Homo sapiens: one gene and its partners. The protein of the gene in region 3 binds, or shares a complex with, the protein of the main gene of each other region. Each region holds a gene or a part of one and is shown on either strand. Other genes may lie near its edges. The genes, in order: NSMCE1, NSMCE2 and NSMCE4A.

The links.
Region 1: NSMCE4A (region 3) and NSMCE1 share a complex: the UniProt entries of both Homo sapiens proteins name them as parts of the SMC5-SMC6 complex.
Region 2: NSMCE4A (region 3) and NSMCE2 share a complex: the UniProt entries of both Homo sapiens proteins name them as parts of the SMC5-SMC6 complex.

Annotation. Positions count from the first base shown.
Region 1 is NC_000016.10:27,229,577-27,239,615, reverse strand, and holds part of NSMCE1 (non-structural maintenance of chromosomes element 1 homolog), read left to right. Parts: intron 1-4,316; coding exon 4,317-4,438; intron 4,439-5,350; coding exon 5,351-5,428; intron 5,429-6,468; coding exon 6,469-6,615; intron 6,616-10,039. UniProt on the Homo sapiens protein: RING-type zinc finger-containing E3 ubiquitin ligase that assembles with melanoma antigen protein (MAGE) to catalyze the direct transfer of ubiquitin from E2 ubiquitin-conjugating enzyme to a specific substrate.
Region 2 is NC_000008.11:125,358,768-125,368,567, forward strand, and holds the end of NSMCE2 (E3 SUMO-protein ligase NSE2), read left to right. Parts: intron 1-3,289; coding exon of another isoform or gene 3,290-3,350; exon of another isoform or gene 3,351-4,787; intron 4,788-8,000; coding exon 8,001-8,118; 3' UTR 8,119-8,353; downstream 8,354-9,800. UniProt on the Homo sapiens protein: E3 SUMO-protein ligase component of the SMC5-SMC6 complex, a complex involved in DNA double-strand break repair by homologous recombination. Is not be required for the stability of the complex.
Region 3 is NC_000010.11:121,970,416-121,980,757, forward strand, and holds the start of NSMCE4A (non-structural maintenance of chromosomes element 4 homolog A), read right to left. Parts: upstream 4,803-10,342; 5' UTR 4,751-4,802; coding exon 4,459-4,750; exon of another isoform or gene 4,452-4,458; intron 4,391-4,451; exon of another isoform or gene 3,891-4,390; intron 3,667-3,890; coding exon 3,589-3,666; intron 3,415-3,588; exon of another isoform or gene 3,108-3,414; intron 655-3,107; coding exon 524-654; intron 1-523. UniProt on the Homo sapiens protein: Component of the SMC5-SMC6 complex, a complex involved in DNA double-strand breaks by homologous recombination. The complex may promote sister chromatid homologous recombination by recruiting the SMC1-SMC3 cohesin complex to double-strand breaks.

The DNA of each region.
Region 1 (10,039 bases), on a different chromosome or scaffold from region 3:
CCTGATGTTTTGATATTTACTGAAGGTTGTGTCTTTTTCTTCAGTTGGTTCTGGATTCTGAAAAGGAGTGGTGTTGTTAATTAACTCCTAAGTCTTCAAAGTGGTATTTCTAAGACTGAAAGTAGTTGTCTCAGAATCTCACCATACGGACTTTATTCCGCACTCTTTATCATGACCATGGGCTCGTAGAATATTGAGGTCAAAAGGATCCTCAGACATGCCTTTAGCCCAGTGTATCCCTACAGATTGGCAAACTGTAGCTTCTCCACCAGGGCTCCTGGATCAGGGGAGAGACCAGGGGCAGAGCTGTGGACATTAGCTGTCCTGAAGACCTGAGGCTGGGAAGCAGCGATCTGGTGCAACCTTAGCGCTTAGTGGACATCATAAGGATCTTGGGAGCAAGCAAGAGACCCCAGTTCTGGTCAACTTAGAAAGGAATGTGTCGGGGCTGGGCACGGTGGCTCACGCCTGTAATCCCAAAACTTGGGGAGACAGGTGGGCAGATCACTTGAGGTCAGGAGTTTGAGACCAGACCAGCCAACATAGTGAAATCCCATCTCTACTAAAAATACAAAAAATTAGCCAGGTGTGGTGGTGAAACACCTGTAGTCCCAGTGCCTGGGGAGGCTGAGGCAGGAGGATCGCTTGAACCTGGGAGGTGGAGGTTGCTGTGAGCTGAGACTGTGCCACTGCACTCCAGCCTGGGCAATGGAGTGACACTCCATCTCAAAAAAAAAAAAAAATGTGTCGGGATGCTATTGGGGGAGGGACACATAGGACTCATTGGTGGCCAGGTGCACAGTTGGGGATAGGCAGGAAGCATGGCATCACCTCATGGCCAGAGCAGCTGGCCCTCTGTAGCTTCTGGGCTGGAGCCACCTCCAAGCTTCCTTTTGTCCCTTGCTCAGATTGGGAGAGTGTCTGGCTGATAGGGGTTCTCTGTCTACTCCTGGCTGCCCTAATCTCTGGTCCCTTCAGCTTTCTGCTTTCTGGTTCCCTGAATATCATACCTGGAATTATTCTCTCACCAAAACCGCAAATGTAAGAGAAAGACAATTGTAAAAAAAAAAAAAGAAAAAAGGCGAAGGTCTCGTTAGGGAGGGACATGGCTGCTGGGCTGGCAGGTGTCACCAGCTGACTCCTGTCTTGGGGCGGCGGCTGGACACAGTAACTGGAGTGCCACGTGATGAGGAAGGAAGTGCTGCCATGGGAGGACAGAGCTGGGAAGTGCAGCTTATCTGGTTGGGGAAGGCCTGTACGGGAGGCTGCCAGAGGATCAGGAGGCTGGGGTCCAGCCAGGGGTGGTGGTAGAGAAGCGGGAGGGAAGAGGGTTCTGGACATGTGTGAGGCTGGAGGCGAGACTGTGTGTGGCTGTTAGAGATGAGAAGTGGGGGAGAGGCTCACGCAGGGCCCCACAGAGCGGGAGGGCAGGATGGGCTAGAGCCCACACCTCTGCTTCTGGCCCCATGCCACCACGCCACCTCTGTTGCTGCTGAAAGGAGTCAGTTGAAGGGTTTGGGGGTGCTGAGTGTAAGAGAAGTTTCTTCTCAGGTCACGATTAAGAGGAGCTGCAAGGGCGCGGGGCCTCCGTGAGAAACAGTTACAGGGTCAGCGATGGAGATCGTGGACATGACCCTGATGCAGGAAGCGTGTGGAAGGAAAGAGGGCGATAGCGGAGAGAACGGGAGCGCCCAAGCAGTGGCTGGTGTGTGCAGTGAGCGAGTACAGTAGGAGGAAGTGGTTGGTCAGATGAAAATACAGCAAAACATTCATGGTTTCTGAAAAATGAGGCTGGACGCCAAACCAGAGGTGGTGTGGAGAGGGGAAGGGCAGAGAGGGCTGCTGGCTCCCTCCCTGCAACGGGGTGTCTGGAAAGTCCAATAGATCAGAATGCTTCTCATCTGCCCACAGGGCACATTGTTCTCAGTGATACCCAGGAGGGGCCTCGTTAGTGGAAAATGTGAATTGTCACTTTCAGAGAGGTGGGACTTGCCCCAGTGTCACACTGGGTGGACAGGGTTCCTGTCACTCACTCCGCACTGAACGAGGCTTTTTGATGTCTGGGCCTCTTGCACCTGAGCTGCCCAGCGTTGGCTCCCCTTGGGGGTGGAAAAGTGTGTCTGGCCAAGTCACTGGCACAGGCAGGTACGGAACAGCTCGGCTCCCACGCCAGCAAAGAGCTGCCTTGCATGCTGTGGAAGAGGAAGACAGCACCGGGGGCAGAAGAGAACATTTCCTGGAAAAACAGGCCATCCAAGGTGGCTGCCGCAGTGGAGGGAGAGGAGTTTTCAGAAAGGAGGGGCCCGTGAGCAGGGGCATGGAGGCAGGAAGTCAGGCCATGCCTCCCTCCTGATGCCTGCTCTCCAGCCGCCGAGGCCAGATGTCATTGTCATATGTTACGATCTCACCACATCCATGTTCCACCCACTTACTATGACTACTTTTTAATTTAAACTGCCTTTTAAAAACTTAACTGAAAGGGAAGATTAGCTCCTCGCTGAGCATGGCACATTAGTGTCACTGCCCTGGGCTTTGTTCTCAGCTTTTCTGGGCCCCACAGTCTGATCCTCTGACAGAGCTCATTGGCCTGGGTTTTCCTTGACTCTTTCACACGGCCACATCCTCCATTGTCACCAGCATGATCTTCTGTTGTTTTTTTTTTTAACTTTATGAATCTTGAGTTGTACGGGTAGCTTAGAAATGCCTCTGTCTAATAAGAAATCAAACACAGACATACAGCACGAGTGCCCTGTGATGACCCTTCGTTTAGTCCCTTCCTGGCGATGGCCTTGGTCGTCAGTCCAGTGGGTAACCTGCTGGGCCTTTTCCTGTGGGACTGTTTCATTGGTTCTGTTTTTGTTTCACACATGAATGTATCATATTGTCCATTTTTTCTTGCAGTTTTTTTTCCAGAATGATTTTCTAAGGCATGAATCTTTTGAAATTATTTATTTTAATACATAAAAACAGTAGTGAAAACAATAATACATACTCTTGCTTTAAAAAGTTTCACAGCACAAGCTGGGCGTGGTGGCTCACGCCTATAATCCCAGCACTTTGGGAAGCTGAGGTGGGCGGAACACTTGAGGTCAGGAGATCGAGACCAGCCTGGCCAACATGGTAAAACCCCATCTCTACTAAAAATACAAAAATTAGCTGGGTGTGGTGGTGCATGCCTGTAATCTCAACTCCTCGGGAGGCTAAGGCAGGAGAACTGCTTGAACCCGGGAGGTGGAGGTTGCAGTGAGCCAAGACTGTGCTACTGCACTCCAGCCAGGGCGAGAGCAAGACTCTGTCTCAAAAAAAAAAAAAAAAAAAAAAAAGTTTCACAGCATAAAAGGGACACAACGCTGGCCATGTCCTTCCACTGCTTCCAGTGCTCAGAGGCTTCCTGGTGCCACAGGAGAAAGGCCCTGCTGTCCCCGGCCACGGGCTCCTGTCCTCACCGCAGCCTCTCTGTCCTCCTCAGCTGAGCCCCCGGCAATAGTGTGGGTGCCCCCTCCTCAGACTGATGGACCTGGATGGTGGCCCCTGGGCTGTGAGCATCCTGCTGGCAGGGCCAGGGGAGGTGGGCGACAGAGAAGTCAAAGCCCCGGCCTTGTGGTGCAACTCTGGGCGAGTCAGTTCACCTCTCTGCGTCTCAGCCTCTTCCCCTGTGCCCAGAGAGCTGCTGGAGGGTGGATTCATGACGACAAAAGGTGCCCAGGACAGGGCCTCTCCATGCTGAGGGCTCGCTGCAAGCCACCCTTCTCACCCCGTTTGTTGTTATTCTTACTGTTCCAGCCCAGGACCCAGCACAAGCCTGGCATGTAAGTGAGGATAACCCGACATTGAATAAAAAGAGAAAGGAATAAAGCTCCACCTAAGATGTGTGGGGACATACAGGGACAGAGGCCTCTCGCGGGGCACTGGGGATGCGATAGAAGGGCTGAGATGGGATAGGATGTTTGTGCGGCGGGAGCTCACGCAGGCTCTGAGCACATCATTGAGTAATGCGCTGAAGGTGCTGATTGGGACTCTCATCAGGAGGCAGCGAGCAAAGACAGGAAGCCCGCGGCAGCCTCCGTGGTTGCAGATAGCATCTCCCTGGCCCTCCTGCCTCACAACGCCCTCCATCTGTTGTCTGTTTGTCTTCCAAGTACTCCAGGAAGAAAGAAGCCACGTGGCATTGGCGTTCACCCAAGAGGCTGCAGCCTCCACCCATGTCTGGGGTTGCTGTCCCCTGCGTTGAGATGGGATGGAATGATTCAAGCAAGCTACATTTTTTTGATGAGGCCCCCTGGTCACCCCCCTTTTTTTGGTCTGTTTATTTCCAGGCAATGCCACCGTAGATAAGTTGGAGGACTTCATCAACAACATTAACAGTGTCTTGGAGTCCTTGTATATTGAGATAAAGAGAGGAGTCACGGAAGATGATGGGAGACCCATTTATGCGTTGGTGAGTGCCCGGCAGAGCCCTCTAGTGGCATTTTTGAGGAGCTGGAACAGGGCCCAGGCAGCCTGTGTTTGCTTTGGTTTGATTTCTCTTTTGGACAGTTCTTTGCAAAGAAGTCACTCCAAATGTATAGAATATTAGGAATAAAGGGAGAAAATGGTTTTTTATTTAGAATAAGACATAGAAGCTATGAAAAGAAACTCTGTAGGAGTGTCAAGGATTGCAGGCCATGTGGGTGGGGCCTTCAGTGGTTTTCAGATTTACTCTCACAGGTAGGGATTTGGGCCTCATCCCTCCTGCCGCCGACTCCCCGTTCACCCACGTGATGTGTTCAGGATGCCACAGCCAGAATGGCAGAGCCAGGAGTGAAATACAGCCAGGGTGAAATACAGGAGTGGGAAGCTGACATGCCCCATCCCTGGCTAGGAGACACCTCAGCTGGTCAGAGGACATCTGGCTGCTCCCAGCCAGGCTCACACTCAGAAAGGGGCACTCTAGTCCAGGGTTGCCCAAACTCAATTCCCTGGAAAAAAAACATTACAGAGTCAAAGAACTGTGGAAATGCTGGTCAGACATGGCAAAGCAGATTTCCTTGCTATCAGACTTCTCAGTGCTTTTTTTGCATTTGAAGCTCCATTAACATGCAGACAAATCTCCCAAATTTATCTGAGTTTGGAAAATACTGCACACCCTTTGGAGTTCTGAAACTTCTGAGGGCCCAGCATGTTGGCTGAGCTAAAGAATAAAGTCTGTAATATACGCCTGGTTACAGATCCATCCCTGCGGCCCGCAGTGCCTGGATACAGGAGCTCAGTGACTGGCCAGAGATGGAGGAGGGGAGGGAGGGAGAGCCAGCGACACGTTAACCAACACGCAAAGAGCACAGCCTGACTGTCGTGCTGACTTATTTCTTAGGTGAATCTTGCTACAACTTCAATTTCCAAAATGGCTACGGATTTTGCAGAGAATGAACTGGATTTGTTTAGAAAGGCTGTAAGTAGAGTAATCCCCATTGCCCATTGGGTGGGCTTCTTATGGGAAAGTTCTGTCTCCGTCATTAGCAGTGGCAACTGCAGTGTTCAAGGATCACTGGGGGGACATGGGCCACCATTGCTGTCTGAGAAAAGGCTTTGCAGGGAGATGTCACTGTCTACCCATCTGGAACTCACAGCTGCCAGGGGGTCCCCATGGCTGCCTGAGAAGGAAGTGCTGGGCCAGGTGTGAGCCCCAACTGGATGGGCAAGAGCAGGGCTTCACTGGTAGTAACAGGCGTTCCTGCCTGGCTGCTCCAAGTGCCATCTGGGAAAGGCAGCAGCAGCAGCATCGCCTGGGAGCTTGTTAGAAAGGCCCGGTCCCAGTCCCCACTCTAGACTGCTGAGTCCGAATCTGCATTTTTGCCAGGTGCCCACTGAATCCTTTGCACGTGCACATTTGACAGGTACTGTTCTACCAGGCTTCAGAGCTATTTGCTCAGCCTTCTGCTCAAACACATGGCTAAGAGTGGTTCTCAGGCCTAGATGCAATGATAATAACTGCAGAGGTGAAAAATAATTCAGACATTTCAGCCCCACTCACGATCTGTTGAATCCAAATCTCTGAGAACCAGGCGGTGGAATCATTCCTTTTAGATCTTCTCCTGGGGATTATTAGCCACCAAGGTTGAGGAGCAGGTGCTGAGCTGAGCACACACCTGCGTGTGCAGGAACCTGTCTTCCCCAGCGGTTCCTGCCTGCCGTGTCTCTCTCTCACTGCCTCCGAGGCCAGCCGTGAGGCAAGGCGACCCTCTTTGATTTGGGGACATTAAGATGATTTATTTGGGAGGATGTTATAGAAGTGACCTCTGAGTCAAAAGAACTGAGCACAGTCCTGGCTCTTGATGCACATTAAATTGTTTTCCCGGAATACCATGCCAGTGTACAGTTCTGCCTGTGATCTGAGTGGTTTTACTGTGCCTCTGCCAGACTTGGTATTACCATTTAAAAGTTATTTTTGCCATTTTAATAGATGAGCATGATACCTGCTCTTTCTTCCAGCTGGAACTGATTATTGACTCAGAAACCGGCTTTGCGTCTTCCACAAACATATTGAACCTGGTTGATCAACTTAAAGGCAAGAAGATGAGGAAGAAGGAAGCGGAGCAGGTGCTGCAGAAGTTTGTTCAAAACAAGTGGCTGATTGAGGTACTGTCTCATGGTTTTTCCAGCCTGGTTCACTTTTTCAAGTGAATAACAGTTTTTTCTCCAAAATCGTACTTGTAGCCAACTGATGTCTGAGGAGCCCGGCCTTCTCGGATCCCTTATCTGCTTTCATGCATTCCAGCAGTGACCCCGTGGGGAGGACTTGGGCCTCACTCCTCCTGCCTCCCACTCCCCGTTCACCCAGATGATGTGTTCAGGATGCCACAGCCAGAATGGCAGAGCCAGGAGCCGCGCCCAGGGACTTGGGCCCCAGGATCAAGGCTCTAGCCCACAGACTGCAAGGCAGGGCAGTTCCGTGGCTGAGAGTGTGGCTCTAACATCTAACCCGGGTCTGAACCCTGAGCCAGGTGACCTCATGTTCCTTGTAAGAGGGGAGTCGTTGTTTCCCCTTCGGGGCTGGGTGTGTCAGGAGCGGGAATGGGACCTCACAGTAATGTGCTCGGTGCTAGGCTGGCTGGCTCGCGGGGGAGGCGGCAGAGGAATTGGTGACATTACCACTGTTGTTTTTGTCAGCAGTGAGTTCCTCAGGGCCAGTGCTTAGAAGAGGCATAGACCTGCTTCAGGAAAGGAGCTGTGACATCTGGGACAGGCCCCACTGCAGCTCCAGTTTCTAGATGTTGCCCCCACCCCCACGTCTAGTCCTGCTGAATGGAGCAGAACAAATGTTTCAGTTCTTTTTCCACAAAAGGCACCCCTGTTTTCAACAGCTCAGTGTTTGCCGAGTTGACCACAGCTGTGCCTCCCAGGTGCTTGTGCCCATGTGTGTTGAGGACGCACTCACGCCGGGTCCCCGCTTCCTCACTTGGTGGTCGGACTCGTGGCCAGAGGCTGCTGCTTGTGGCTGCAGCGATTCTCCGCTTCCTTTTCAGGAAGGCTCGCGTCTGGGTTGGGGAAGTCTGTGTTCTGAGTTACTGATTTCTATTTAGGGTGGGCCTGTCCCAGGAACCTGACCCGAATTCAGTTCCTGGGGTACCTGATGGGAAGACAGGGTGGAGAGGTCATGGGGTGAGGGCAGGGCTGGGAGCTCCTGGTGAGTGCAGGATCTGCTGGGCGCGTTCCCGTATGTCATGTCTTGGAGGCTGTCTGCTGCCCTGCAGTGGCTCCATAGCTTAGTTTTTAGCTGACAGCTCAGGGGTCTGGATGACGTCGGACACCCTGAGAGTGGCAGGGCCGAGTTCAGGCCCCGGTTTGGGGACTGCAGCTCCCATCAATGGCTTTGTCACAGTTGTTCTTGCCCTCCAGGCTGTATTTGGCACTAGGGAATGTTCTAGGGCTACTCAGGTTATAACTGACCATTCTCGCTTGTGGTGCAGCCCCTCTTCAGGCCAATTTTTTTTTTTTTTTTAAGATGGAGTTTTGCTCTTGTTGCCCAGGCTGGAGTGCAATGGTGCAATCTTGGCTCACCGCAACCTCAACCTCCCGGATTCAAGCGATTCTCCTGCCTCAGCCTCCCAAGTAGCTGGAATCACAAGCATGCGCCATCACACCCGGCTAATTTTTCTATTTTTAGTAGAGACGGGGTTCCTCCATGTTGACCAGGCTGGTCTCGAACTCCTGACCTCAGGTGATCCGCCTGCCTCAGCCTCCCAAAGTGCTGGGATGACAGGCGTGAGCCAGCGTGCCCGGCCACAGGCCAAGTTTTTTAAGGGTAGGGGTTATGACCTCTTCATGGCTGGTCCCCATTGCAGAATGTAGTGCCTGGCACCTCAACTGCTCAATAAATGCTTGCTGAATGGATGACTGGACAGGTGGATGAGGTTGCAGAGGAACAGCATTTAAAACTTACAAAAAATGTTACAGGAAATATCTGCTCATTACAGGAGGATTAGAACATGTTGAGATGCATAAAGAAACCCACTGAAGTCACCTGTTATCCCAGACCCTAGAGCCGAGTGCCCCAACATCCCAGTACACAACACTTTGCACCCTGCTTTGCACCCAAGAGCACCATGCCTAGCACATGCTGCCACCATTGTGCATGGCTTGCAGGGCGTGCCCCCAGCTTTATGGTTTGACTTGCCCTTTGTCTGCCCTTGGTGTCTGGAGAGGGCGGTGGTGGATAGGAGAGGCCCCGCCCTGGAGTCTGTGGCGGTGAGCTGTGGCTGCAGGCGCTTGTACTCTGTGCCTTTCTCAGTTCGGTGGCAGTGCTGGCACCACCTTCTGCAGGGCGCCTCTGAGCTCGAGGGAGGGTGGACAGAGGATCCGGGAGCTGCCACCTGCAGGAGCGCTGCAGAAGTAGCAGGGGGCCCTCAGCACTGGCGCTGGGCAGTAGCCCTAGAGAGGCTTCTTGTTGACTGCCTGGCCTGCTGGGGCCCTCAGGAGGACGAAGGAACGAAGCTAATGTGGCAGGGGCTGTGTGGTGAGACTCCTCCAGGTTCCTCCGCTGCCTGTGGTGAGCAGCTTCTCGTTGCGGAGACTGTTTCCTCATCTGCAGGATGGGGACATTGCCAGCTCCAGGTGTTTTCTGTGAGGGTCCAGTGCTCTCTGACCTACATGGCCTGGTAAGGGTTGCCTTGAGGTCTGCGGCACTCTGGAGGAATCACTGAGAACCGGGGCGGGTGCTCACTTACCCAGGACAGGTCTTCCTAGGGCAGCACCTCGATCAGAGAGACCACATGTCAGTGTCTGATCCTTGGCCTCTCAGACACAGGGCTTCCCACAGAAATAGCCAGGGGCCCACTGACAAGGCCCTTCCAGGTGGGTATATCACCCCAAGGACACGTCACTCCTGGACAGCCAGTCCTGTGTGAGACTGGCCCGGCATGGAGGTGCTGAGGCAGCTGTCCGTCCAGGAGAAGGCCCAGGGGTGGTAGGTGGTTGGGGTCAGCGGGGAGGCCTCTGAGAGCAAGCGCGGCTCATGGGAGCTGGGCGTCTGCTGATCGGCGCACCTCCATACACCCCAGGACTGCTCCCTACACGAGGTCCTGACTTCCAAGTGTTGTGGCGAGGCGCCTGGGAGATCACCTGGGCTGTCGTCGTCTTTGAGGGCTAGGGCATCCCTCCTGCCCCTCCCCTGATGGGCCCTCAGAGGACTGAGTGGGTCATGAATGGTGAGCCTTGGGTGCAGTTTCAGGCACATAGCAGGTGTTCAGTAAATGCAGCTTGGCTGGGTGCAGTGGCTCAAACCTGTAATTCCAGCATTTTGGGAGGCCAAGGCGGGTAGATCACTTGAAGTCAGGAGTTTGAGACCAGCCTGGCCGATATGGTGAAACCCTGTCTCTACTAAAAATATAAAAAAGTTAGCTGGGTGTGGTGGCGGGCATCTGTAATCCCAGGTACTCGGGAAGCTGAGGCAGAAGAATCGCTTGAACCCTGGAAGCAGAGGTTGCAGTGAGCTGAGATCGTGCCATTGCATGATCTAGCCTGGGCAACAAGAGCGAAACTCTGTCTCAAATAAATAAATAAA
Region 2 (9,800 bases), on a different chromosome or scaffold from region 3:
AGAATTGGAATTCCCCAGCACTCCTCATCTGGGTGTGGACTTAGAGATAATATATTGGAGACTAAAGATATCTTGATGGTCATTCAGGCAAATAACTTATCCTATGTATTCTAGAAGAATAGTGGCTTTGCTGCCTAATGGTTGCAAAATGTAGACATTCTTAGTACATTTTGATCTGTTTTGAGTTTTTGAGTTAACAGTTGAAATGTCAGATTTCGGCCAGGCGCGGTGGCTCACACCTGTAATTCCAGCACTTTGGGAGGCCGAGGCGGGTGGATCACGAGGTCAGGAGATAGAGACCATCCTGGCTAACACGGTGAAACCCCGACTCTACTAAAAATAAAAAAAAATTAGCCGGGCGTGGTGGCAGGCGCCTACAGTCCCAGCTACTGGGGTGGCTGAGGCAGGAGAATGGCATGAACCCGGGAGGCGGAGCTTGCAGTGAGCCGAGATCATGCCACTGCACCCAGCCTGGGTCACAGAGTGATACTCTGTCTCCAAAAAAAAAAAAAAAAGAGGGAGGATTCTGGGTTGTTAAATGGCATGCTTTCTTGCTCTTTCTCTTTTTTTTTTTTTTTTTTTTGAGACTGAGTTTCCCTCTTTTTGCCCAGGCTGGAGTGCAATGGCGTGATCTCAGCTTACCACAACCTCCGTCTCCCAGGTTCAAGTGATTCTCCTGCCTCAGCCTCCTGAATAGCTGGTATTACAGGCATGCACCACCACGCCCAGCTAATTTTGTATTTTTAGTAGAGATGGGGTTTCTCCATGTTGGCCAGGCTGGTCTCAAACTCCCGAGCTCAGGTGATCTGCCCGCTTCGGCCTCCCAAAGTGTTGGGATTACAGGCATGAGCCATCGCGCCCAGCCATGGCATGCTTTCATTAGTTTCCTTATCCATAAATGAATGACAATCGTTGTAATCACCTCATTGGCATATTTGAAATTTAAATAAGATACATGCAAAGTACTTAAAGTAGCTGGTACACAGTAGGGCTCAGTAAAATTATCCCATCATCATCTTCAAACTTGAGCCACTATCAACATCCTCTTCGTTTTTTTCCACCATTGCTCTATAGGCATGGGAGACGAGGACAGTTTTAAAGGAGTAAGATGAGCCAACCTGGAGTTTAGGAAGTTACTCCAATAGCAATGCAGAGATGGATTAAGGAGGCATGAGGCAAAAAAAAGTCAGTTAGGATGCTTTTACAGTGGTTTAAGTTATAGAAAATTAGAGTATAGAGATACAAGAGTGATTGTGGAGGTACAGTTAACGACATTTGACGACTGACTGAATGTAAGAGAAAGGAAGAAGCAGCGAGGGGTGGCTGACATTTCTCATCTGGGTGTCTAATACTGTCATTTGCTCATTAGCCTCCAGAGAAGGCATGAGAGAGGAACACTCTTATTGGAGGATTGTGATAGACTCAGCTCAGGTCATCCTAAATGCAAGGTCCCAGCAATACAGCCCCGTGGAAGTGTCCAGGAAGTGCAGCAAGTGTGAGTTTTGCAGTCAGGGGAGGACTCAGAACTATCGATGTGGATTGGGAGGTTATCAGTATAGACGAGTCAACCCGCTCAACTACCGTCACAGATGCAGCTCTGGAACAAATGCATTCACCAGCAGAGAGCCAGCAAGGCAGGACCCGCACCTCGCCTGTGATCTCCACAAGGCCAGAGCCCGACTTCGTTCTGCTCACTGTGATGCCTTAGCACCCTGGTGCCAACCCTCAAAAAACACTTTGTTGACCAATGAGAGGATCAATCAGCGGAAGAAGACCCCTAAAAAAGCAGTCTAAAATATAGCCAGGAGCCAGGAAGAGTGATAAGGAGTGGAGGCTCATGGGAACTTGTGGGCGGGGTGGGCAGGGTTCTGAAGGCCAGGTGCATTTGGGCAGCAGTAGATTAGAACTCAGGGCCTTCTTGAAACCAACTCCAGAAGTTTCTGATGAAGCATGAAGTCGTATCATTTCCCATGATGCACATTAGAGTGATGAGTATTTCTGGGTTCGCTTTGTTTAGAAATGTCCATGACACATTGTCTCATTTCTTCCTCCTAGATTGTTCTAGTTATGTTTGTTTTTTTAGACTGGAGTTCCAGGTCCATTGTGTTCTGGGCACTGCCTGAATTTTACTGTGCAAGCTTCAGGCCCTGGGAAGGCCTCTCTGCACTGGCTTGAGTCAGAATAATATTGTTGAGACTTTAGCCCCAGCCAAGCACGGTAGTTAGAATAATTTCCTAAAATATATCTGTTAACAATAAGCCTATTTATTCTCTTAAAAATAAAGCTGCCTTATGATTTCCTTTTTTTTTTTTTCGTTTCTTTTTTCTTTTCCTTTTTTTTTTGAGACAGAGTCTCACTCTGTCTCCCAGGCTGGAGTACAACCTCTGCCTCCCAGGTTCAAGCAATTCTCGTGCCTCAGCCTCCCAAGTAGCTGTGATTACAGGCACATGCCATCACACCTGGCTAATTTTTGTATTTTTAGTAGAGACAGGGTTTCACCATGTTGTCCAGGCTGGTCTCGAACTCCTGGCCTCAAGTGATCTGCCCACCTTGGCCTCCCAACCTTATGATTTTCATATATTAATATTTCTAACCTGACCACAGTCACTTTTTTGCTTTTTTGTTTGAGAACAGGAAACATATTTTTAAAAGTCATATTTAAGAGCATGTAGAATAAAATGAAATTGAATAGAAATGGGTCATTCGACAGCAGAACTCCAGCTTTGTGCTTGGAATTCCTGTTTCAACACTTACCAACAAGCCATTCAACCTTTCTGCCTCAGTTTCCTCATCTGTAAAGTGGAAATAACATCAGCATCTCACAGCACTTCAGGGGCCAAAGAAATGGTAGGGAATTCCATTCTAGGTCTGGACCAGCACATTTCTTGGCAGAAGAGTAGCAAAAGCACTTAGTTGAAAGCTCTTTTGGGAGCGAAGAGCGCTAAACAAATAGCTGTAGGGTTGTTAAGACCGAGGCTGATAGAGTTGTTATCACTCCCCGTGCTGCTTAGTGACACATTATTTGACTCAGGGGTTGTAAGATAGAATTACTGTCTGTGTTGAGGTATGACAGGAATCCCTCCCACTCAGATTTCCAGAGGTCTCTATAGACCTTCTGTCTATAGCTTGTAGACTAAACCTTGGAATTCTTGGGACCCAGATCCAGGAACTCCCAGAATCATGTACTTTTGAGCATTTGCAGAGGCCAAGGTTCCCCACAGCTCTGTGGGACCCCAAGACCCGGTTCCCTTTGCTCAGCAGTCACCTTTGTGTTTGCCCTGTGCTGCAGCGAAATGCTCTGCCCGGGTAGTGCCTGGAGGTGGGGACCCAGCCGCTCCTGCGAGGCCTGAAGGGCTGACTCCTGCACAGCGATGATGCGGCAGCTGAAGATCGGGTATTGCCACACTGAACTCGCTCACCAAGATGTCGTGGGATTAATGCCGAATGCTTACGGAGACAGTTGTTTCTCCAGAGGAGGCATGCCTTGATTCAGCACTGTGGCATGATGGCCTTCTCTTATCCTTTCTGCTTTAAAAACTTGTGTTTATTGGAGACGAAGGAGAAACAAGGTCCTTCCCAGTTCCAGCATCAACCTCGCCTCCAGGAAGTCTTCCCTGAGCCCTTATTCATGCTGGACAAAATGTCGTTAGCACCCCATGTCATGCCAACATTGTCAGTGCAGCTGGCTCCTCTCCACGAGCTTCTTGAGAGCGGAAGCTGTGGACTAGGGCAGGGACTGGTGCACGGCAGGACCTGAAGTGAACTCCCCAGTCCTTGACACACATCAGCCTGCTTATTTCTCAGCCTTATTGGACAGGCTTGTCCTCTGCCTTCATGTTCTTAAAGGGAAAAACTGAGGCACAGAGAATTTAGTCACTTACCCAGAGTGACACAGCCAGGGGGTTTAAGCCCAGGTCTTTCTCATTCTTGAGCCTGCAATTCTGTCAGTAGGCCATCCAGCTCCCCTTGGGAGGGCTATTTGGTTCATGCCTCTACCATCAGAGTCTATCTCCTCAGTGAACTCAGACCTTGTTTGACATGGCTCACTCTGGGATCCATCCCACTGAAGTGAAGGTGGGCGCCTGCTCTGCAGCTGAGTGTGTGGTTAAGTCCATCAGACATTCTCAGCATGCTCTCATGCACTGACTAAAACCATGATGTCATCAGGAAGTCCTCCCCACCTCACTCTCCACTTCCCTCTCCACTGCTTATTCACTGTCTGGCTATGAAAGTTAAGGCCTTTGCTGGGTAGAATGGAAGAGACCAAGGCCAGGCAGTCCAAAGCAGATATTCAGGGTTATGTTTTAAGGGAGGGTCATCCCAGCAACCTACTTGGAGTTGCATTTCAATGTCATGGAAGCCAAAGTTATGATACTTGGCTTTTCTAGTCACAAAAGTGTCTGTATCCTCTTCATGATCTTAGCTGCTTTTTTTCATACTTACAGACATAATTCACCAGGCACGGTGGCTCATGCCTGTAATCCCAGCACTTTGGGAGGCCAAGGCAGGTGGATCACTTGAGCTCAGGAGTTCAGGACCAGCCTGGGAAACATGGTGAAACTCTGTCTCTACCAAAAATTTTTTAAAAATTAGCCAGGCGTGATATTGTGCACCTGTGGGCCCAGCTACTCAGGAGGCTGAGGTGGGAGGATTGCTTGAGCCTCAGAGGCAGAGGTCACAGTAAGCAGAGATAGTGCCACTCCAGTCTGGGTGACAGAATGAGACCCTGTCAAAAAAAGAAAGAGGAAAGAGGAGAGAAAGAAAGAAAGAAAGAAAGAGAGAGAGAGAGAGAGAGGGAGGGAGGGGGAGGAGGGAGGGAGGGAAGGAAGGAGAAAGGAGGAGGGGGAGGGAAGGAAAGAAGGAAGGAAGAAGAGAGGAGGAGGAAGGAGAAGAGAGGAGGGCGGGGAGGGAGGGAAGGAAGGAAGGCAGGAAGGAAGGAAGAAAGGAAGGAGAATTCGCTTTGAGACTTCACAGCGTAGGGGGACAGGCTGGGAAAAAAATACAGATTTTTAAACTAGTGTAAAACATTTCTCCAGCCTTGCCCTAATGCAAAGCCAAATCATCAAAATGATGCATACCTGGGCCAAATCACCCTGATCCTCTTTCATATAATTGCCTTTCTGTAATTATGATTTAACACATCATGTACCTGAGTATGTAGGGCACTTTTTTTTTGTTTGTTTTGTTTTGTTTTGAGACAGAGTCTTGCTCTGTTGCCCAGGCTGGAGTGCAATGGTGCAATCTTGGCTCACCGCAACCCCCACCTCCTGGATTCAAGTGATTTTCCTGCCTCAGCCTCACGAGTAGCTGGGATTACAGGCATGCGCCACCACGCCTGGCTAATTTTTGTATTTTTAGTAAAGATAGGGTTTCGCCATGTTGGCCAGGCTGGTCTCAAACTCCTGACCTCATGTGATCCACCTGCCTCGGCCTCCCAAAGTGCTGAAATTACAGGTGTGAGCCACCGTGCCTGGCCATATTTTAATATTTTAAAAATAAATACTGTTATTAAGCATATTATATTTCATTGATTAATACCCCTCTAATGTAAAAACTCCTTGATCCACAGATCAGGGCCAAGAAATACTTTCTTTCATGTTGGACTGTTGGGCTTCCTACCACTAGACAAATTGGAGCTCCCATGACCAACTTTCTTTCCTTCTGGTTTGCATCTTTACTGTGGTTTGCACATTTGTTGTTTTTGGTCTTAATATCCTGTGCTTTATGGAGAGCTGTCTCAGATCACTGGGCCAGAGCTCTGTGTGGGCAGGAACCATGTATTTGTATTTCACAGTTGCATGCTTAGAACCTAGCATAGGGCTGATCCCTAGAAGAGTCAATTAATGCATGAATGGGTGCATGCCTGTGTGGGATATATGCAAGATAGAAATAGATCCAGAACTTTAAAACTTCTTGGAAGAATGATGATGAGGGAACACATGATAGTCACAGGGGATCTGGAAGGGAATTAACATTATTGAGCACAGAGGATCTGGGAGGGAATTAACAGTATTGACTGTCACCTTGGGAAATAAGGGTTCTCTCCCCATTTTAACTCAGAGGCAAGGGAGGCTCAAGAGGGTTATTGTGAATTGCCTGTGGTCTCATAACTAGCAAGTAGGTGGTAGAGAGAAAATTCAGACCTAGGTTAGCTTGACTCCAAACATTGGGCCTCTAATCTACCAAAATTTGGTTCACTTTGAGAACCAGATTCTTTGAGAAGAAATAGGTGGTTTCATCCAGCCCACTGCCCTCAGAGAAGACCACATCGAAGCAGAGCCGTGGCTTGTTTCCACCCCTTTGTGGGTGACTCACTGATGTCTTTAGCTGCAGCCTTTCCACCGAGTCCCAGTGGCCCACTCAGTCTCTCTTCTAGGAGGGCTACTGGGCATCCATTCCAGAGGAAACAGATACCAACCAGGACTGTGGTTCTGTGCTGCAGCCTGTTTTGCCCCATCGTTTCCCACTGTGATGAAGGGCACTACCAGTCACTGATCTACCCAGATGAAGCTCGCTTCTTCCCTTTCGCTTATGCTCCACAGCCACTCCATCGGCAAGTCCTATAGGTTCTATGGTCAAGCATGTCCTGAAGCTGATCGCCATACCACCCTCAGCCGAGCTGCCCTCACCTCTCTCCTGCACCCTGCAGGATCCCCCATGCTATTTTCCCTGCCCTTCTCTTACCTCCCTGTTTTGTATTCTCCATAAGCAGCCAGAGTAACATTTTCCAGATGTAAACCAAACACACTCCTCACCCATCTCAAAACCTTCCAGTGTTTTGTCTTCATATTTAAAATAAAATCCAAGTCCAGGCACGGTGGCTCATGCCTGTAATCCCAGCACTTTGGGAGGCCGAGGCAGGTGGATCACTTGAGGTCAGGAGTTCGAGACCAGCCTGGCCAACATGGTGAAACCCCATCTCTACTAAAAATACACAAAATTAGCCAGGCATGGTGGCAGGCGCCTGTAATCCCAGCTACTCAGGAGGCTGATGCAGGAGAATTGCTTGAACCCAGGAGGCGGAAGTTGCAGTGAGCTGAGATCACGCCACTGCACCCCAGCCTGGGTGAAAGAGTGAGACTCCATCTCAAAATAAATAAATTAATTAAATTAAATAAACTCCAAAGCCCCATTGGCGCACTGACCTCACTTCCAACTGCTCTCCCTCTTGCCTGGGTCGCTGCAGCCACATAGAGCTTGCTGTCACTCCAGGGCACCAAGCTGGAACGTCCTCAGCACTGCACTTGCTACTGCCTCAGCCCAGACCACATGCAGACTTGTTCCCACGCTTCATTCTGGGTCCTGCCCTAGATAAGATGTGTTCGGTGAGGCATGCCCTGAGTCCAGCCAGTGAAGCTGTGGCCCCAGCACTCTCTCTCCCTGACCCTGCTTTGTTGCCCTCATAGCCCATAAGGTGACCTGAACTTGCAGCAAGCATTTATTTGGTTCCCTAGTGGTTGCCTGTCTTCCTCATTAGAAAGATAGCTCATAGGCTGGGCGCGGTGGCTCACGCCGGTAATCCCAGCACTTTGGGAGGCCGAGGCGGGCGGATCACGAGGTCAGGAGATCGAGACCATCCTGGCTAACACGGTGAAACCCTGACTCTATTAAAAATACCAAAAATTAGCCGGGCGTGGTGGTGGGTGCCTGTAGTCCCAGCTACTCGGGAGGCTGAGGCAGGAGAATGGTGTGAACCCGGGAGGCGGAGCTTGCAGTGAGCCAGGATCGTGCCACTGCACTCCAGACTCCGTCTCAGAAAAAAAAAAGAAAGTTAGCTCATGATAAGGCAGGCACTACTCACATATCGCTTGTGTCCCCAGCACCCAGACAGGGCCTGGCTCAGGTAGGGACTCAGTGAATAAATGAATGAGCACAGCTTGGTCCTGATTTTGACACTTTTCCTTTTTCAGTAAAATGCCTTACTTAAACACTTGAGTATAAAAGAAGTTTCTGCTTAAGGCAGTAAAGGGGACTGACTTGATGTTCTTTCTTTCTCACAGTTGCCCTCAAATTGGCTGTAGCCACACGGATATAAGAAAGTCAGATCTTATCCAGGATGAAGCACTTAGAAGGGCAATTGAGAACCATAACAAGAAAAGACATCGTCATTCCGAGTAGGAAAAGCCACCTGCCTGCAGGGACACCAGCAGCCTACCTCCTACCCCAGCTGTCTGTTGAGAGCAGTGCTGACCCCAGCAGTTAGGGACTGGCTGCATAGCATACTTGTTGGGGGTAAAACTTGTTGCTTTTATGTGTGCTTGAAAACATTTTTCAAAGTTACACAACAGAAATGCAATCATATTGTTTATTTTTAAGTGTTCTATAATGTTAAATAAAACTTTGATCATCTGCAGTGTCCTCCCTGCATGCCTCCTGATGTATGGATTGTTCCAGAGGTGCAGGCTTTTCCATTTCAAGGACATCAGACTGATTTTTATAATAGTTTTGACTAAAGAATGTCTTTCAGCCAGGTGCAGTGGCTCATGCCTGTAATCCCAGCACTTTGGGAAGCCGACGTGGGCAGATCACTTGAGGTCAGGAGTTCAAGACCAGCCGGGGCAACATGGTGAAACTCCGTCTCTACCAAAAATCCAGAAATTATCCAGGTGTGGTGGTGCGCACCTGTAATCCTAGCTACTCGGGAGGCTGAGGCAGGAGAATCACTTGAACCCAGGAGGCAGAGGTTGCAGTGAGCCGAGATCGCACCACTGCACTCCAGCCTGGGCGACAGAGCAAGCCTCTAAAAAAAAAAAAAAAAAAAAAAAAAAAAAAAAAAAAAAGAATGTCTTTCAAGTGATATTTGAAATTGAAACATATAAAAACACCCCTATTGGGAGGCATTTTCTATGAGTATAGTAAATAATAGCATTTGGTTATAAAGCAAAGTCAGTTTACTTTCTTGTATTTACATTGTATATTGACAGTTCCAAACATATAAATGCTTTTATTGTCATTCTGAATGGAATAGAATGCTCCAGTGACTGGCTAATCAGTGCATTGCAGTGATGATTGATGCCTATAATGAATACTTTGCTGCAGCCCTCCAAGAGCCTAAAGTACCATCAACAGTAACCACATTCCAGCTGCTCTCTGTTTTTCTAGATGGTTCACTGCAAGTGACTTCATCCCTCTGGATGTTGGTGTCTTCAGCCATAAAGTGAAGGTGTTCAACAAGATGCTCTCTAATGTCTCTAATCAACAAGATGCTCCCTAATGTCCTGTGACCCCTGAGAGTCTATGGACTGACACCAGCAGGGTCTTTAAATTGAATGTCTTCAATTATATTCTAATTGTGTGATGAGCACCAATCTATTGTCTCCATTAGCAACCTTTTATCAACCTTACTATTTAATTAAACCAAATTTGAAGCATACCCTGATGGCACTGGAAAACCAAGAATAGCTAATAATAGCTAACATTTATTGAGTACTTATTTACTGTATACCAGGTGCTATTCTAAGTGCTTTACATTATATTAACTCCTATAATCTTCATAGCCCAGTGAGAGAAGGACAGTTCTTACAGATAAGGAAAAGTAGGCACAGAGAAGCGAAGTCACCCATGGAAAGTCAGAGATGGAACTAGGAAATGGCTGAGCTGGGACCAGAATCTGGAGAGCCCAGTCCTAAAATCTCCATTCTTAACTCCATACTCTCCTCCTCCCTATTGACATAATTTAGAAAATGAAAATATATTCGAAGCCCACATTTAGAACCAAAGCTTTTGTAAATAAGTGTGTGTGTGTGTGTGTGTGTGTGTGTGTGTGTGTGTGTGTGTGTACAAAAAGTCTAATTAAAATG
Region 3 (10,342 bases):
GAGCCGAGATCACGCCACTGCACTCCAGCCTGGGCGACAGAGCGAGACTCTGTCTCAAAGGAAAAAAAAAAAAAAAAAAAAAAGCAAAACCCAATCATATTCACATGGTTTTGAAATATTCTCAAAGACAGACCAAAACATGCCCTCTCGCCAGGCCTAACTCAATTCCAGCTGAGCTCTGCCATCGCAGAGTGGGCTTTTGTCCAGCCCAGGACAAAGGTCTGAGGTCACTGAGAATGATCTAGAACACCAGTGAACAGAGGAAAAATGGCCATTGGCAAATGACCATAGCACCCAGCATCTTAAGACAGAATGCTACGAGATTTTTACTCCAAGCCCCCACCCAAGATTCCACCACATGGTTCTACTTTCGTCTGTTTAAATTGGTAAGATCTCTACAGAGGAATCTGAGACCAAAAAAGAAGAATGAAGTGAAATCATCTGCATATGGATATGAGCACAGTAAATAATTATAATATATAACAGAACATTTTTTATTCAGAGTCTGTAGCTTTGAACTTACTAGAGTTTCAACATATCTTAACATGTCAAAGGAGCTCAGGTCTGAGCGCAGCTGCTTTGCTTTCTCTTTGCCCAAATCTGAAGCCAAAACAAGAAAGTGGGCATCCAGGACTGCTTCTCTTGCTCGGGACACTATTCAAAAAAGAAAGAAAATATTCACATTACAAAATACACATTATCCATAGACTTTTTCCCTACATTTCCAACTACTTACCAGGATTTCCCACTGGACTAAAAAAAAAAAAAAATCTCAATAGGCAACTGACACATCTCCTTCTAAAACGTGCTCCTGGCCAGGTGCGGTGGCTCAAGCCTGTAATCCCAGCACTTTGGGAGGCCAAGGCGGGCGGATCACGAGGTCAGGAGATCGAGACCATCCTGGCTAACACGGTGAAACCCCAGCTCTACTAAAAATACAAAAAATTAGCAGGGCGTGGTGGCGGGCGCCTGTAGTCCCAGCTACTTGGGAGGCTGAGGCAGAATGGCGTGAACCCGGGAGGCAGAGCTTGCAGTAAGCCAAGATCGCGCCACTGCACTCCAGCCTGGGTGTCAGAGCAAGAGGCTGTCTCAAAACAAAAACAAAAACAAAAAAAAACTTTCTCCTGTGCCCAACTCACCAAAATCTCTAATGAAAGCTGACCAGTCTTCCTAAAAGCCAGCTTTCTGTCTAGTTCTCCTACTGTTAGCTGAATCACAATCTCTTAAATAACTCCAGTTGAGCAAAACCCGTCATGTCTAATACTCACTTTTCCCTCCATCCTAATCACGATGATCATGTGTGCTGACGTAAGGAAAATCAAATTCCCACTACATGTAGGGCCCTGTGCTTGGCATGGTGGTTTGTGAACAGCAATAGGTAAGCTGCTAAGCAATAGGTAAGTTGCTAAAGTTGCTAACCAAAATCATGGCATGTGCTAGGCTGGCACTAGGAGGCTCATGCCTCTGTATGGCTTCACAGGCAACCCCAGCAAAGCCACCCAAATGAACAGTCTACAGGTAGCAGGTAGTGACCCGAGGACGGATACTCAAAAAAGGCTTGACAGAGGACATGGGATTTAAGAAAAGCTATGGAAAAAAAAGATTTAAATTAATGCAGAAACAGGCTGGGCACAGCAGCTCATGCCTGTAATCCCTACACTTTGGGAAGCCGAGGCAGGCGGATCACTTTGAGCTCCAAAGTTTGAGACCAGCCTGGGCAACGTGGTGAAACCCCATCTCTACTAAAGAATCAAAAATTAGCTGGGCATGGTGGTGCACACCTGTAATCCCAGCTACTCGGGTGGCTGAAGCTGGAGAATAGCTTTAACCTGGGGGGGGCAGAGGTTGCAGTGAGCCAAGATCATGCCACTGCACTCCAGCCTGGGCGACAGGTGTAGGTGTTCCCAGACTATTTTTCATACTCTCTGTTGCCTGCAGGGTCTGATTAAGCAACCCCCTCAGCCCCGCTGTTTCCTTTTGTTGATCCCTTCTTTATCTCCCATGAGTATCCTGTGCCTGCCTGCCCCACTCCCTTCCCCTTTCATTTATTTATTTATTTTACAAACTGAGACCATCAAATCCATGAATGCCAGCATCTGTTGTTTGCTGAGCAACTCCTAGGGCTCCAATGAGTGAATAATTTTGCTCTAAAATATTGCTTTAAATACTGGAAATAGCTGAGGGGGGAATGATGTGGGGATAAAGAACTGACTAGATGCACAGTAAATATCAAGGGAGTAATTGAGTCAAGTCAAGCAAGACTAACAGTAAGGAGACTGGGAGTCCAGGCTGCGAAGGGAAGACAAAACTTAAGAGGGTAGTAGAGGGATTTAACCAGGTGAAGGAGAAACACCCGGTTCCTGAAGGTTTTGATGAGAGTTAGCAAATGCGGTAGACTAAGATGGGGAATGGTAAGGAGGCTGTGGTCAAAGAAATTGGAGAGCATATATAAAGTGATAAAAGGAGACATTTAAAGAACTAGTCATCCTCAGCAATGACTAAAAATATACGTTCTAGTCCTTTAAGAATATGAGGAACCAGCCGGGGGCGGTGGCTCATGCCTGTAATCCCAGCACTGTGGGAGGCGGAGGCAGGTGGATTACCTGAGGTCAGGAGTTCGAGACCAGCCTGGCCAACATGGCGAAACCCGTCTCTACTAAAAATACAAAAATTAGCTGGGTGTGATGGAGCACACCTGTAATCCCAGCTACTCGGGACGCTGAGGTAGGAGAATTGCTTGAACCTGGGAGGTGGAGGTTGCAGTGAGCCGAGATTGTGCTACTGCACTCCAGCCTGGGCAACAGAGACTCCATCTCAAACCTCAAAAAAAAAAAAAAAAAGGATATATTTGGCTGCATTCTCCCCTATGTTCCCACAGACCCGTCAGAGAGGGCTGGAGGGGACAGTGGTCTGGGTAGTAGTCCTGTGGCTCTATGACCAAGTACCCACATCAGGGAGTACCCCTCTGTCACCAAGCAGACAGACAGCTGCTACCAATACCACTGCCTCTGCTTTCAATTCAAACTAAGGTTATTTTTTAAAGCACCCATGGCCTAGAGTTCAGTGCTCTGGGATCTCTCTCACTCACTCACTCACACACAACACACCCCAGACTGGAGACCAGCAGGTACACTTGCAGGCTTTGCCACCTCCATTGTGTTACACGTGGACCAATAGCAGGGAGCTGAGGAAGGCAAAACAGAATGGGACAGGAAAAGAAACAGGATTTCAGAGGCTAGCTCAGTTCTGTAATTCATCCACTCAACCAATGTATACTAGGGATACGGCAGTAAACACAAGAAAAAGAAACAAGATAACACATGTAACGTTCTCAAACTTGAAGAGGCAACAGAATCAACTGGGGGCTTAACACAGACTGCGGAACCTACCCCCAAATTTTCATGTAAAGCCCTTATTATATGGTAAGTGCATAATAAAAATGGCATTATTGCTATAATGAAACGGTTCCCGAACTGGGAAAGCACTATTACAAATGTGGGAATTGTTTTATGTCAATAATTTGGCGCTTATGTAACACTAATTAAAAGTATCATAAAACACGAAATAACATATAAAATAACAAATTACCTTCATTAAACAGAGTGTTAGCCTCTTCAAGGACCTCTGTTAATTTGTCACCGGCATTCAGTATGTCCTCACGGTTTTCTATTTTTAAAAATACAAACTTTGGGAAATTTGTTCAGCATTCACTAATAAGCAGTTGACAAGGTTATCACCTGCAACAGTAAAGCCAAGCCCCGGCCCCTGCGCTCTGAGTAATTACTTCGAACATCTTTATCTTTTTAACCAAAATGACCCGGAAAAGGAGAAAGGCCACCCTACCCTTTATGCAGCATGAATTTTAAAAGGAAACCCTAGCTCCCTCTAACCTTAACCCAAAGGGCTGGACTCCGGCTGCAGCCTCTGAGTGCTCCATAACTGAGTGGTTCTCAAACTTTGCAAGCAATACACACCATCACCTGGAGGGCCACTCCACAGTTGCGCGGACCCACCCAGAGATTCGAATTCCGCGGGTCCGGGTGGGGTCCGAGAACGTGCATTTGACAGCTCTCGCGTGCCGCTGCAGCTGCAGCTGCCGCTGCGAGGCCGGGAGCCCACGCCGAGGACTGCCGGGCGCAATCAAAGCACGCGGAGTCCGCGTCCTGCCTCTCCCCACTGGCTGGCTGGGCTCGGGCGAGTCCGCGAACGGCTCTGGCCTCCAGCTTTTCCAGCCCGCCACTCGGGGACCCGCGCCAAGGTCGTACGGCTCCAGCCACAAAGTGGGAGCACTTTGTCAACAATTTAAGGTGCGGCGAGGGGCTGGCACCCGGCGCGTCTCTACTAACGCCGCGCCGGGCCTCCGCCCGGCACCTGCCTCCGGTGCCCTCCCCCCGCGCCCGGCGCAGGGCGGGGACAGCGGCCCGTCCGGGCCCGCGCCGCCCGGAGGCGCCGCCTTACGTTGGACGGAGTTGATGAGCGCCCGGTACTGATGGCGGATCTGGCGGCACAGGCCTTGGTCGGCCTCCGCCTCCAAGCTGGCCGGGTCCATCATCTCGTCCCCGGAATCCGACGGCTCTGTGTCCTCCAGGCTCGGGCGCTCTGGGGCCTCTCTGCGCTCCCGCGCAGAGCCGCGGCGGGACCTGGGCGACAAAGGGGACCGCGAGCGGGAGCGGGAGCGGGTGCGATCCCGATGCGGGTCGCGGCCCCGGCCCCGGCCCTCTGGCCCGCGGCCGCTGCTGTCCCCAGACATAGCGCCAATTCACCGTGCAACTTCGGAACGGCGGAAGTTCGCGCCAGAAACTGAAACCCCTGCTCTGCGCCAGCGCCTGCTCCCGGCGGAACGCGGCTCCCGGGCCCGCGCGAGCGCACAGCGACGCCTGTGGCTGGAGGCCGGCGACGGGCCCGGCCGGGTCTCCAAGGCGCCTGGGGGGACCGCTGGGTGCACAAGAGGGGCCTGGCGGGGATCCTTTGTTCCCTTGACAAGAGGTGTAATGAGCTCTTACTCCACACTGCAGGGCTGTGAGAATCTTGGTTTTCTGCCCCTACTTTCCCACCCTCCTGGACCTGCATCTTCCCTAGGTCCCTTTGCCTGCCCAGGACACAGCCGCAGCCTGGCACCCACATGGGCACGCAGTCCATGTGTGTTGAACGAGCTTCCTGCTGTGGAGCAGGATGAGCGCGGGATGTGGAGTCCAGACGCGGTCTGCTGCTCACCTGCGACCTCAGTTTCCCTGTGCCATCATGGCTGGGGTCGGGGGGGTGGGGAACAGGGGTGGGTGGATGAATCAAATATTTATGTGCAGCTGGCAATACCATTTTTTGTGAGGATAGCAGAACAAATTAACAGGTAAACATCCTTCTAAATATCTACAACAGAATGTCACCAGAGCACCAGGGTTTTGTTCTAGGACCCGCTGCCCCCTCACAGAAATCACTGAGAAAACCATTATTACCAAGGAAGAAGGCTTTAGTAGGGTGCTGCACTCAGGGAGTTGGAAGCTCAGTCTCAAATCCATTGCCCTGACCAACTAAAATTAAGGGTTTATACAGTTGCAGGGAAGCAATGTAACAATGTATGGGAAAAGAGGAACTCGGGAGGGGGAAGGAAGCTATGGGGATGCATGAGGGGCTTGGCATCTCATTGTCTGGAATGCGGTGATATGGCGAGTTTCAGTTTTTTGATACTTTTTGAGAGGCTCTGGAGGTCCTTTCCTGAGGAAGGAACTCAGATAAAACAAAGGTAAGTTTCAACCTTAAGACTAGAAATGATAATTTCTAAGTTTATTAAAAAAATAGTAAACAGTCTATGGGATTGTTGGGTTGATTTTAATGACAGTCTATGTTCACATTTGATTTTTTTTTTTTTTTTAAGACCTTGCTCTGCCGAGGCTGGAGTACAGTGGCACTATCTTGGCTCACTGCAACCCCATCTCCTGACCTCAAGTGATCCGCCCACCTCGGCCTCCCTAAGTACTGGGATTACAAGCATGGGCCACCAGGCACAGCCTGATTCTGATTCTCAAACTAGAAGATTCTAAGAATACCTCCTGAAGGGCCCAAGAAAGATGGAATTATGTTAAGTATACTTTGAAAGATAAATGTATGAATTTCACTCCGTGCATTTTGGATTGTATTCGAGTATTGTTTCCCAAAAGTTGTCTTTGGTGCTAAGAACACATTTTCTCAAAAGACCAATATTATAAGTTGGGTTATTACACAACCTACAAATATTCCATTTTGTGCATCATGTCTACTAAACTTAAGTTAGGCACTGTTCATTGCTGTCCAACAGCTACTACCTCACCCATCCCTGCTTATCTGTATTTCCTGAAGGGGACGTGTGTGCCTACTTCCTTAGATGAAACGTGATCACTCTAACCAGGTCACGGTAATGTCATTCCCCTTCCCCAGTGACTGGTCAAGGGTCATGTGATGCAACCTGGGTCCGTGAGATGTGAAAGGGTTTCCCAACTGGATGGAATACAAACCTTCCTGAAAAGAAAACCCTTGACCCCCTACCCCCTTTGAGATGGCTGGCATAAGAAATGGGGAACCTGCCAATTAGCGGGCATAATGGTGCGTGTCTGTAATCCCAGCTAATCGGGAGGCTGAGGCAAGAGAACTGCTTGAAGCTGGGAGGTGGAGGTTGCAGTGAGCAGAGATCGCGCCATTGCACTCCAGCCTGGGTGACAAGAATGAAACAACGTCTGAAAGAAAAAATGTGGAGCCTGCCATATTGGCAGCATCTGGTACTCACGAGGTGACAAGCATGAGGAAAGACTAGAGTGCTGGAGACACTGGAGAGCAAAGATGGACATGGCTGAATTGCTGAATCAACCACATGCCTCCAGACTCCCTGTAAAGTAAGCCATAAATCATGGTTTAAACCAGGTCATTGTTTCATAGTTGTTGCTTGTAGCTCAGTGTTCTGTAATGGAATACTTAGCGTTCTTCCAGGTGAAAGTGTGTCCAGAATTGGTGGGTTCTTGGTCTCACTGACTTCAGGAATGAAGCCGCGGACCCTCGCAGTGAGTGTTACAGTTCTTAAAGGTGATGTGTCCGGAGTTTTTTCCTTATGATGTTCAGATGTGTTCGCAGTTTCTTCTTTCTGGTGGGTTCGTGGTCTCACTCGCTCAGGAGTGAAGCTGCAGACCTTCACGGTGAGTGTTACAGCTCTTAATGCGGCGTGTCTGGAGTTGTTCGTTCCTCCCGGTGGGTTTGTGGTATTGCTGGCCTCAGAAATGAAGCTGCAGACCTTCACAGTGAGTGTTACAACTCATAAAAGCAGTGCAGACCCAAAGCGTGAACAGCAGCAAGATTTATTGCAAAGAGCGAAAAAATAAAGCTTCCACAGTGTGCAAAGTGAGCTGAGTGGGTTACTACTACTGGCTAGGGCAGCCTGCTTTTATTCTCTTATCTGGCCCCACCCACATCCTGCTGATTGGTCAATTTTACAGAGAGCCGATGGGTCTGTTTTACAGAGAGCTGATTGGTCCATTTTGACAGGGTGCTGATTGGTGCGTTTACAATCCCTGAGCTAGACACAAAAGTTCTCCACCTGTCCACTAGATTAGCTAGATACAGAGTGCTGATTGGTGTATTTACAAACCCTGAGCTAGACACAGAGTGCTGATTGGTGCATTTACAAACCTTGAGCTAGATACAGAGTGCCGATTGGTGTATTTACAATCCCTTAGCTAGACATAAACGTTCGCCAAGTCCCCACCAAATCAGCTAGACACAGAGCGCAGATTGGTGCATTTACAAACCTTGAGCTAGACACAGAGTGCTGATTGGTGCATTTACAAAGCTTGAGCTAGATACAGAGTGCTGATTGGTGTATTCACAATCTCTTAGCTAGACATAAAGGTTCTCCAAGTCCCCGCTAGACTCAGGAGCCCAGCTGGCTTCACCCAGTGGATCCCGCACCAGGGTGGCTGGTGGAGCTGCCTGCCAGTCCCTCGCCCTGCACCCCACTTCTCAGCCTTTGGGCAGTTGATGGGATCGGGCACCCTGGAGCAGGGGGCGGCGCTCATCGGGGAGGCTCGGGCCACGCTGGAGCCCACGGTGGCAGGGGGAGGCTCAGGCATGGCGGGTTGCAGGTCCTGAGTCCTGCCCTGCGGGGAGGCAGCTAAGGCCCGCCGAGAAATGGAGCACAGCGCTGGTGGGCTGGCACTGTTGGGGGACCCCGCGAACCCACCACAGCTGCGGGCCCAGGTGCTAAGCCCCTCACTGCCCAGGGCAGCCGGCCACTCCCGAGTGCGGGCCTGCCAAGCCCACGCCCACAGGGAACTCTAGCTGGCCCGCAAGCACAGCGTGCAGCCCCGGTTCCCCCCGTGCCTCTCCCTCCACACCTCCCCGCAGGCTGAGAGAGCCGGCTCTGGCCTCGGTCCCAGGAAGTGGCTCCCACAGCGCAGCGGCGGGCTGAAGGGCTCCTTAAGCCGGCCAGAGTGGGCGCTGAGGCCGAGGAGGTGCCAAGAGCGAGCGAGGGCTGCCAGCACGCTGTCACCTCTCAAAAGTTCATTCCAAGCTCCACACAAAAATACCTGAAATAGGCCAGGTGCAGTGGCTCACGCCTGTAATCCCTGCACTGTGGGAGGCCAAGGTGGGTGGATCACCCAAGGTCAGGAGTTCAAGACCAGCCTGGCCAACATGATGAAACCCCCGTCTGTACTAAAAATACGAAAAATTAGCCAGGCGTGGTGGTGGGCGCCTGTAATCCCAGCTACTCAGGAGGCTAAGGCAGGAGAATCACTTGAACCTGGGAGGCGAAGTTTGCAGTGAGCCGAGATCATGCCACTGCACTCCAGCCTGGGTGACAGGAGCAAAACTCCATCTCAAAAAACAAACAATGACAACAACAACAAAAAAACCCTGAAATAACTCATTCAATTCAAAAGTATTTGAGGGAGGGCCGGGCGCGGTGACTCATGCCTGTAATCCCAGCACTTTGGGAGGCCGAGGAGGGTGGATCATGAGGTCAAGAGATCGAGACCATCCTGGCCAACATGGTGAAACCCCATCTCTACTAAAAATACAAAAAATTAGCTGGGCATGGTGACGTGCGCCTGTAGTCTCAGCTACTCAGGAGGCTGAGGCAGGAGAATTGCTTGAACCGGGGAGGCGGAGGTTGCAGTGAGCCAAGATGGTGCACCACTGCACTCCAGCCTGGTGACAGAGTGAGACTCCATCTCTAAATAAATAAATAAATAAAAATATTTGAGGTGTACTCATAGGCTAGACACCCTACAAAGCACAGCAGGGCACACAGATAATTCAGGTACTTGCCTTTGCCTTCCAGGGTATCACCAGAAGACAGGCATTAAACTGATTCTAAAATTCATGTGGGGAGCCAGGTGTGGTGGCTCATACCTGTAATCCCTGCACTTTGGGAGGCCAAGGCAGGTGGATCACTAGAGGCCAGGAGTTTGACACTAACTTGGACAACAAAGCAAGACCCTGTCTCTACAAAGTATATATAAATCAACATTAGCCAGGCATGGTGGTGCACACCTACAGTCCCACTGACTCAGGAGGTAGAAACAGGATGATCGCTTGAGCCCAGGAATTTGATGCTGCAGTGAGCTATGATCATGCCACTGCACTCCAGCATGGATGACAGAGCAAGACCTTGTTTAAAAAAAAAAAAAATTATATGGAAATGCAAGGGACCCAGAATAGCCAAAACAATCTTGAAAAAGAAGGACAAATTTGGCAGGATTCAGACTTCTTAATTTCAAGACTTAATACAAAGCTGTATAATCAAAACTGTGTGGTATTGTCATAAGGATAGACATATAGATCAAAGGAATGGAATTGAAAGTCCAGACATATCATTTATGGTTAACTGATTTTCTTTTCTTTTCTTTTTTTTTCGAGGCAGAGTCTCTCTCTGCTGCCAGGCTGGAGTGCAGTGGCACAGTCTTGGCTCACTGCAACCACCGCCTCCCAGGTTCAAGTAATTCTCTTGCCTCAGCCTCCTGAGTAGCTGGGACCTCAGGCGCGTGCCACCATGCCCAGCTAATTTTTGTATTTTTAGTAGAGACAGAGTTTCACCCTGTTGGCCAGGATGGTCTCGATCTCTTCACCTCGTGACCCGCCCGCCTCAGCCTCCCAAAGTGCTGGGATTACAGGCATGCACCACCACACCCAGCTGATTAACTGATTTTCAACCAGGGTGCCAAGACAATAGGAAAATAATAGTCTTTTCAACAAATGGTAGTGGGACAATTGGATATCTGTAGGCAAAGGAGTGAAGCTAGACCCTTCCTTCACATCATATATAAACATTAACACAGAATGGATTGGACCTAAATGTAAGCTAATACTATAAAACTCTTAG